2 linked regions of the Homo sapiens genome follow. The protein of the gene in region 2 interacts with the protein of the main gene of each other region in a biochemical or structural test. Each region holds a gene or a part of one and is shown on either strand. Other genes may lie near its edges. The genes, in order: ANXA1 and CDH13.

Region 1 (3,830 bases), on a different chromosome or scaffold from region 2:
TTCCCACACATATTCCAAATCTTTTAGGGGAGTAAAAGCAGTGAAAATAACAAAATTATGTTCCACATGCCCAAGTCACAAAATGTATTAAATATGATAAAGTAGCGGCTGTACAAAATTGGACAAATTGACAAATAACAATGGGTCAGGAACACTGTATCTGTTTGATACAGGAGTGATATTGAAAAAGGGTTCTGTTTTTACTTTCTCTTATTTGTCATCAAAAAAGAAAATTGCATCTTCCATAAACAGATTCCAGAAAAAGAAATTTATTGTTACCTCTGCGAAGTTGTGGATAGCTTCTGGTGGTAAGGATGGTATTGAACACGTTTACGTCTGTCCCCTTTCTCCTTTCTCCTGCTTCATACAAGGCCTGTCAAGAAACACAAAAGTAAACACTTCACTATCTGCTGAAATGATATCTGCACAATAATGTTAGACCTTGTCAAAGATTATATAGGCAATCGCTTTGTGCCCAATACAATCAGAGTAGTCAACAATAAGATTGCAAGTTCTTTAAAGATAGGGACCTTATTTTGTTTGTCAAATATCTTCCACAGTTTCTCTCAAGGTGCCTTGTAAACACTAGAGTCTGAATATATGTTTGCAGAATAAATGTTTGCTGAACTAAATTGCTTTAAGATTATGCTCTATAGTAAGACAACTCCAAGGGGATCTCTAAAGATTTTTTACTCTGTGTTGTTCAAAGTAATTATCAGCAAATGTTACTTATAAATCAATAATTCAACCGTAACCTGGACCTTGCATTTTGATGTTAGAATTTCTGTATTCAAATTCTGACTCTGCAATTTCAAAGCTGCATAATCTTAGACAAATAGATCAACCTTACTAAATGACAGATTTTTTTCTTTTATATATGAAAAATATAATCCCTGCCCTATTGTCACAAGCGGTCTTTATTAACTTTGAAATGTTGACTACCATCATTCTCTTGGGTCACACTAATCCATGTAACCTCCATAAATATATATTAAGAACCCTGATAGTCTTAAAATGGAAAGCAAATTCAGAAATGTCAAAAGCAAATAAGAATTTTTTATTATGGGCAATTATTCAAATGCTAACTCTTGTTCCTTAATATGCTTGAACAATTTCTATTAAAATGATAAAACCTTCAATGTATGTAAAAATTATTTTGCATTTTTCAAGCAAATTGATCTGATATGTATGCATTTGTTGAACAAAAAGTTCATGAGTGCCTATTATGTACATGATAATGTACTGGTATAGCAGAAGTGGATGGGGGTGCACAAAGAAATCTCTATCCTTAGTGAAGCACTGTAATGAATTCTCTAGAGAATACTGTTCCATGAGAAGGCATAATGCAAATATTAGTTGTTTGTTTGTTTTAAATGGAAATTCCAGGCTTTAAAATGATATGATTTTTCTTATGTTGCCAGTGGTTTGGCATATAAATAATCAGCAATGTCACTGAAACTAAATAAAACAATATGTTAGAAAGCATATATTATTATAATTTATCCTATACTCTTGTTATATCATTGCAGTAATATTTTGACAATATAAATTGACATCTATAAACCATTCCAAAGTTCTCTGTTAAAAATAACGTTAAATATGCTTACTCTTTCCATTGCACATAATAAAAAAATTACATTTCCCCTTCTTATACCTAGTACAACGAAAGGTCAGAGTTTTTTTTAACAAACAATTCTTGGGAATGACAAATCAAATTTGTATTGTCCTTCTTCAGTTCTCTCTGGTTTTACGAATAATGAGAGATATTGAAAACTTACAAAGACTACTTTTTTGTGTGTGGGGGCTACAGAAAGACATGCCTCATTCAGGAAATGAACATTAAGAAGCCATTGGTCTCTCAGAAGATCTTAGATTTGCTTTCACAGGGGATCATGTGGTAGCCCCACTTAAGGTAGGAAGATGAACTGCAGCAGTATTTTGTAAGCACTTCCTTACCCTGGCATCTGAATCAGCCAAGTCTTCATTCACACCAAAGTCCTCAGATCGGTCACCCTGAAAGAAATCCCATTCTATTGTAAGCTCTTCTCTAGCATGTAATTGCATGATTTACTTAATTATCTTAAACTCAGATAAATAATATTTTTTGAGAAAAAGGTATTCTATTACTCATTTCTAGAAGGAGCTCAGATACAAGATTTTACTTGCGATGGTTTTAGATGTTCTTCCCCTCCAAACCTCATGTTGAAATTTGATCCCCAGTGTTAAAGGTGGGGCCTAGAGGGAGGTATTTGGGTCCTGGGGCTGATCTCTCATGAAGAGATTAATGCCGTCACTGGGAATGAGTTCTTGCTCATGAGAACCACGAGAGCTGGTTGTTAACGAGGCTGGCACCTCCCCATTCTCTCTCTTGCTTCCTTTCTTGCCATGTGGTCTCTGCACACACCAGCTCCCTTTCCTCTTCTGTCAGGAGTGGAAGCAGCCTGAGGCTCTCACCAGACATAGATACCCAAACTTGAATTTGTTAGCCATCAGAATCCTGAGCCAAATAAACCTTTTTATCTTTAAAAATTACCTAGCCTCAGATATTCCCTTATAGCAACACAAAATGGACTAAGAAATTAGTCTTTATAAAACAAGAGGCATTTCCTAAAGTATCTGAGTTGTACCTTAGCAAGAGAAAGCAAAGCGTTCCGAAAATCTCCAGATGTGTCTGAGGTTATGTCTTTGGCCAGATCTCTCTTCAGTTCTGAGAAAAAAGAAAAATAGATTTTATAGTAAACCAGTGATGAATAATAATAAGAATATCTGACATCTCTAAGTTGGTTGAAAATTCACAGTGCCACAGTGTTCAATGACTTATGGAACATGTTGCAAAATATTATCATTTTTAAATAAGAAGAGAAAAATTAAAGCAGGTAAATTTTTGGATCATTGAATTTATTTCATATGAAGCAATGGGAGCAATTTAGATAATACTGTGATTGAAAACTCACAGTCATAAAGCTTTCGTTAAGAATAAATTGTATAGGTATACATTAGTAATTAATTCTGAAATACAACATGGCAGAATTTAAGCAATAGAATGAATAAAATAATTGTTTAAAAGAACAAAATGAGGTACTTGCTTGAATGCAAATTATTTATTTAGTTTAAAAACTATAAATGTCTTATAAGTAATGCAGTTTGATGATTTATGTGTGTGTAAACACTTCTGCTTAACTACATAAAATAATACTGTAATAGGAAAAAATAATTGAATTTATAATTGACTAGTGCTATGGTTTTCATATTGTTTGTTTGGCCCTGCCAAGTCTCATGTTGCAATTTATTCTCCACTGTTGAAGGTGGGGCCTGTTGGGAGATGTTTGGATGATGGGGGCAGATCCCTCATGAATGGCTCGGAGTGAGTTCTCATTCATAGTTTCTTTAAGAACTGGCTGTTGAAAAGAGCCTGGCACCTCCTTTTCTCTCTCTCCCTCTCTGCACACATCTGCTTCTGTCTGCTTTCTGCCATGAGTAGAAGTAGTATGAGGCCCTCATCAAAAGCAGACGCTGGTCCCATACTACTTGTACAGTATTTCCTTTCTTTTTACATTACTTGGTCTCAGATATTTCTTTATAGCAACACAAACGGACTAAAACAACTTGAAACTGGGCAATGTAATAAACTATCACTGGCCTATATCTTGGCCATATGAAAAATATATAAACACTTATTTTTATAAACTATGTTTTATCAAACAAAAATAATCATCATTATTACCACTGACACATGGATCTAACATAAACATTGGTAATTAAATAAGAATTGCAGAAAATGAGGTTTAAAAGCTTCCTTATTTTTATTCTTTTATTAAATTCCTCTGAAA
Region 2 (3,830 bases):
CTCAGCCTCCAGAACCATGAGCAATACATCTCTGTTATTTATAAGCCACCCAGTTTATGGTATTTTGTTATAGTAGCCCGAATGGACTAAGACAGTATACAAACTCCTCTGGACCACCCCTGCTCAACGTTTAGCCCAATTGCTGTACAGCCGAATTATCTGTGCTTTGACAAGGTTTCCTAATTTCTTCTCAGTCCCCACTCCCATCTCTAACCCTTCATCTGAAATTGTCTCTGCTTTACAGAAAAGACTCAGGAGAAGCCTCCGAGGGGTGGCCTCTTGATTTCTATTTTCTCTCTCTCTTTGCAGAAGATAAAGTTAGAAAGCCAGTGAGATAATCGAGGTTAAGTGACATTAGTACCTGAGACAGGAGGGTGGAGGCAGGGATGGATGGAAAGTGTTGGACCCTTAGACTCTGTTGGGCTTTGCAGTGGGAAGACCAGGAAGGAGACATGGAGATGATGGTGATGATGATGGTGGTGGTACAGTCATCAGAGACAAGTCAGGCAGAGGGGCAGGTCAGGAGGGGAAGATGATATGTTCGCTTTCAGAAATGCCCAGTCTGAAGGGCCAGTGAAATGCTATAATGGCTTCTTGTTTCCTTTTTTTTTTTTTTTTTGAGACAGAGCCTTGCTCTGTCACCCAGGTTGGAGATCAATGGCATGATCTTGGCTCACTGCAACCTCCGCCTCCCGGGTTCAAGTGATTCTGCTGCCTCAGCCTCCCGAGTAGCTGGGACTACAGGCATGTGCCACCATGGCTGGCTAATTTTTGTATTTTTAGTAGACACAAGGTTTCACCATGTTGGCCAGACTGGTCTTGAACTCCTGATCTCAGATGATCCACCCACCTCGACCTCCCAAAGTGGTGGGATTATAGGTGTGAGCCACCGTGCCTGGCCCTTCATTTTTCCTTCTACTCACAGGACTCTGGTCTTGCACAGAGCTTTATATACGTGAATGTCCAATGTTGTACTATGTGATTTCCTGGCAGCTCACCACTGTCAGTAGGATAAAAAACCTTCTGTTTTCTTTTTCTGTCAATTTCCCAACTTCCTAATTCACAATTACACCGATACGTTCTCAAAAGGTAAATTGCAAGGCCCAAAAGGCTTTTGGATGGTAACAGTTATATATGAATAACGGCTAAAGTTAACATTGGACTAGTATTTCATAAATAAGGAATATCTGAGACATGTATTTATTAATTTTATCCTCACATCTATACTACTTGGCATAATAATTCATTTGTTAAAAACAATGTTTCATGATATTATAGTCATTATTACTAGCCAGTGAAAAAACAGTGTAAATTATGCATTTATCATTTTCCCTGCAGCCCACCCTCCATCCATAAATTCTCACGACTATTCTCAGAAAGTCTCATAATATCTGTTTTAACCTTGCAAAAGATTATTCTGCATAATGTAGAGAGAAACAGGCCTCTGATAGACTAGTTAACTAATCTGGGCGCATTTTCATTAGCTCAAGTTGAGTGGCAGCTGTAGGAAGTTTTGCTTACCACCTAGTTTGCAGGCTAGCAATGAACACCTTTGCACAATCCCTCAGACTGGCTGGCAGGGATTGTTAAGATGCCTTTAAACATCAGTGGGAGCACTTTTACATATAACATGTTCTATCATACAGACATACACTAAAGATGAATGATTCTTCTGGGAAACATCTTCTTGGAAAGGTATATGGGAAAATGCTGGCTTCACGAACCCAGTGAAGTTACAATTTCCTGTTTGTGCATGCACTGGAGTTAGGTCAACTTACAAGCTAAGCTGAAGAGGCTGAGGAGCAGGACTGAGGGCAGGCTGAAGCGCAGGGCCCCTGCCGCGTTGCAGTCCACTTTGGAATTCCTGCAGGAGCACACTTGTACCCTGAGATCTGTGATATTCGTCATGGGTGGTTTCCCTGAATCTGTCACCATGATGGGCAGGTTGTAGTTTGCTTTGTTCAGATTTTGAAGAAGGCTTACCAGGGCGTGTGTATCTGTAAAGGCAAGGAGGGTTCTGGTGAGAGTGGATGAGACTTTTTCCAATAAAAGAGTGAGGTTTTGGTGATGAAAGTCACACCAAACAGGCATTGCATTTTCATTTATAATTGTGCGAATGCTTACATTTAAATTCATTAACATCAAGTGAAAATACCAGTTCAGATCCTCAGTGGCACCTGCCACATTCCAAGTGCCCAGAAGCCACACATGGCTGCTGGCTCCTGTAATGAACAACACAGAGACAGAGTGTTTCCATCACCAGAGTTCTGTGCCTCGGCGCGATTATAATCAGTTTCAAGGAGAGCTCCTTTCATGAAGATGATTGATTACCAAGAACTCCTCCCTGCAAATTTATTACACGAAAAAGCCATCTTGACAAAGACTGCGTTCCACATCTAGAAAGCTAAGGTGAAAATCCACCTGCTCTCAATGTGGGCAGGACCCTAATGTGTTATCATGGAGATGGGTTCTATAGCCTACATTTTTTGTCTTTAGTTTTTTTTTTTTTTTTTTCGAGACAGGGTCTCACTCTGTTGCCCAGCCTGGAGTGCAGTGGTGCAATCTTGGCTCATTGCAACCTCCGCATCCTGGGTTCAAATGATTCTCCTGCCTTAGCCTCCCGAGTAGCTGGGATTACAGGCACACACTACCATGCCCAGCTAATTTTTGTATATTTAGTACTGATGGGGTTTCACCATATTGGCCATGCTGGTCTCAAACTCCTGACCTCAGGTGATCTGCCTGCCTCGGCCTCCCAAAATGCTGGGATTACAGGTGTGAGCCACTGAGTCCAGCCTTGTTTTTGTTTTTTTTGATCAATCCTCTGTCCACAGCTCTACATTTGGGTGGGAACCCGCAACATAGAGACTGGATCTTTAAGCTTCCCCTCCACTTCCCTGATGTCATGTGCGGTGGCAATAGCCACCATCACCCAGGCCCCTGGGTGACACTTGGCAGTGGCTGCACCAGCTGGCCTATTCTTTAGCCTTGAGATAAAGTCACTCACATGATTAGGGTCATATGTATTTTTAAGTGCCCCTTTCTGGGAATAAACAGGGCTAAATATTCAGAAAAAAAAACTGTGAGACAACAAAATCATTTAGAAGGCATTTATCTATTAGGTAAAACCAGGAGAAAAAACAAGAGAGTAATGACAGGGAAATAAAAATACATGAAGCATGATCATTACCAGAAGGTGACAGGAGCAGCAATGACTAATGTGATGCTCACCTAGTGAGATGGCAGATTAAATCAAACAGCATTTTCCCATCTTCCTTTAGTAGAGGATACAATCTTTTTTTTTTTCTTCTTTTTTTTTTTAATTGAAGTTCCGGGGTACATGAGCAGGATGTGCAGGTTTGTTACATAGGTAAACATGTGCCATGGTGATTTGCTGCACAAATCATCCCATCACCTAGGTATTAAGCCCCACATGCACTGGCTATTTATCCTGATGCTCACCCCCCTCTGCACGCCCCCAAAAAAGAAACTCTTGAATGAGAAAGTTCCAATTGGAAAGAACTGGAGATGATTATTCAAATAGGCTATAGCCATAAAAACTAGCAAATAAAACACTAACCCCTCAAACAAGAGAAGGTCTGTTTTAATTAAAAATAATCAGTATAACAGAATTCATTATTTAAAAAGCAATAAAATAGACAAACAGGCAAATAGAATCAATAACAAGCAAAAGGCACTAAAAAAATGAGATATGAGATAGGGCTATAACAATAGATATGAGATTTTTAAATAGAAAATGTTATGCACAATTGTACAATACATTTGCAAAACCTAATGAAATGCGTAATTCTCTGTCTCCCTCAAAAGTT

The links.
Region 1: the proteins of CDH13 (region 2) and ANXA1 interact in a test that uses a peptide from one of them, tested with the Homo sapiens proteins (one large-scale study listed by BioGRID).

Annotation. Positions count from the first base shown.
Region 1 is NC_000009.12:73,161,659-73,165,488, reverse strand, and holds part of ANXA1 (annexin A1), read right to left. Parts: intron 2,708-3,830; coding exon 2,628-2,707; intron 2,014-2,627; coding exon 1,957-2,013; intron 374-1,956; coding exon 280-373; intron 1-279. UniProt on the Homo sapiens protein: Plays important roles in the innate immune response as effector of glucocorticoid-mediated responses and regulator of the inflammatory process. Has anti-inflammatory activity.
Region 2 is NC_000016.10:83,781,421-83,785,250, reverse strand, and holds part of CDH13 (cadherin-13 isoform 1 preproprotein), read right to left. Parts: intron 1,998-3,830; coding exon 1,779-1,997; intron 1-1,778.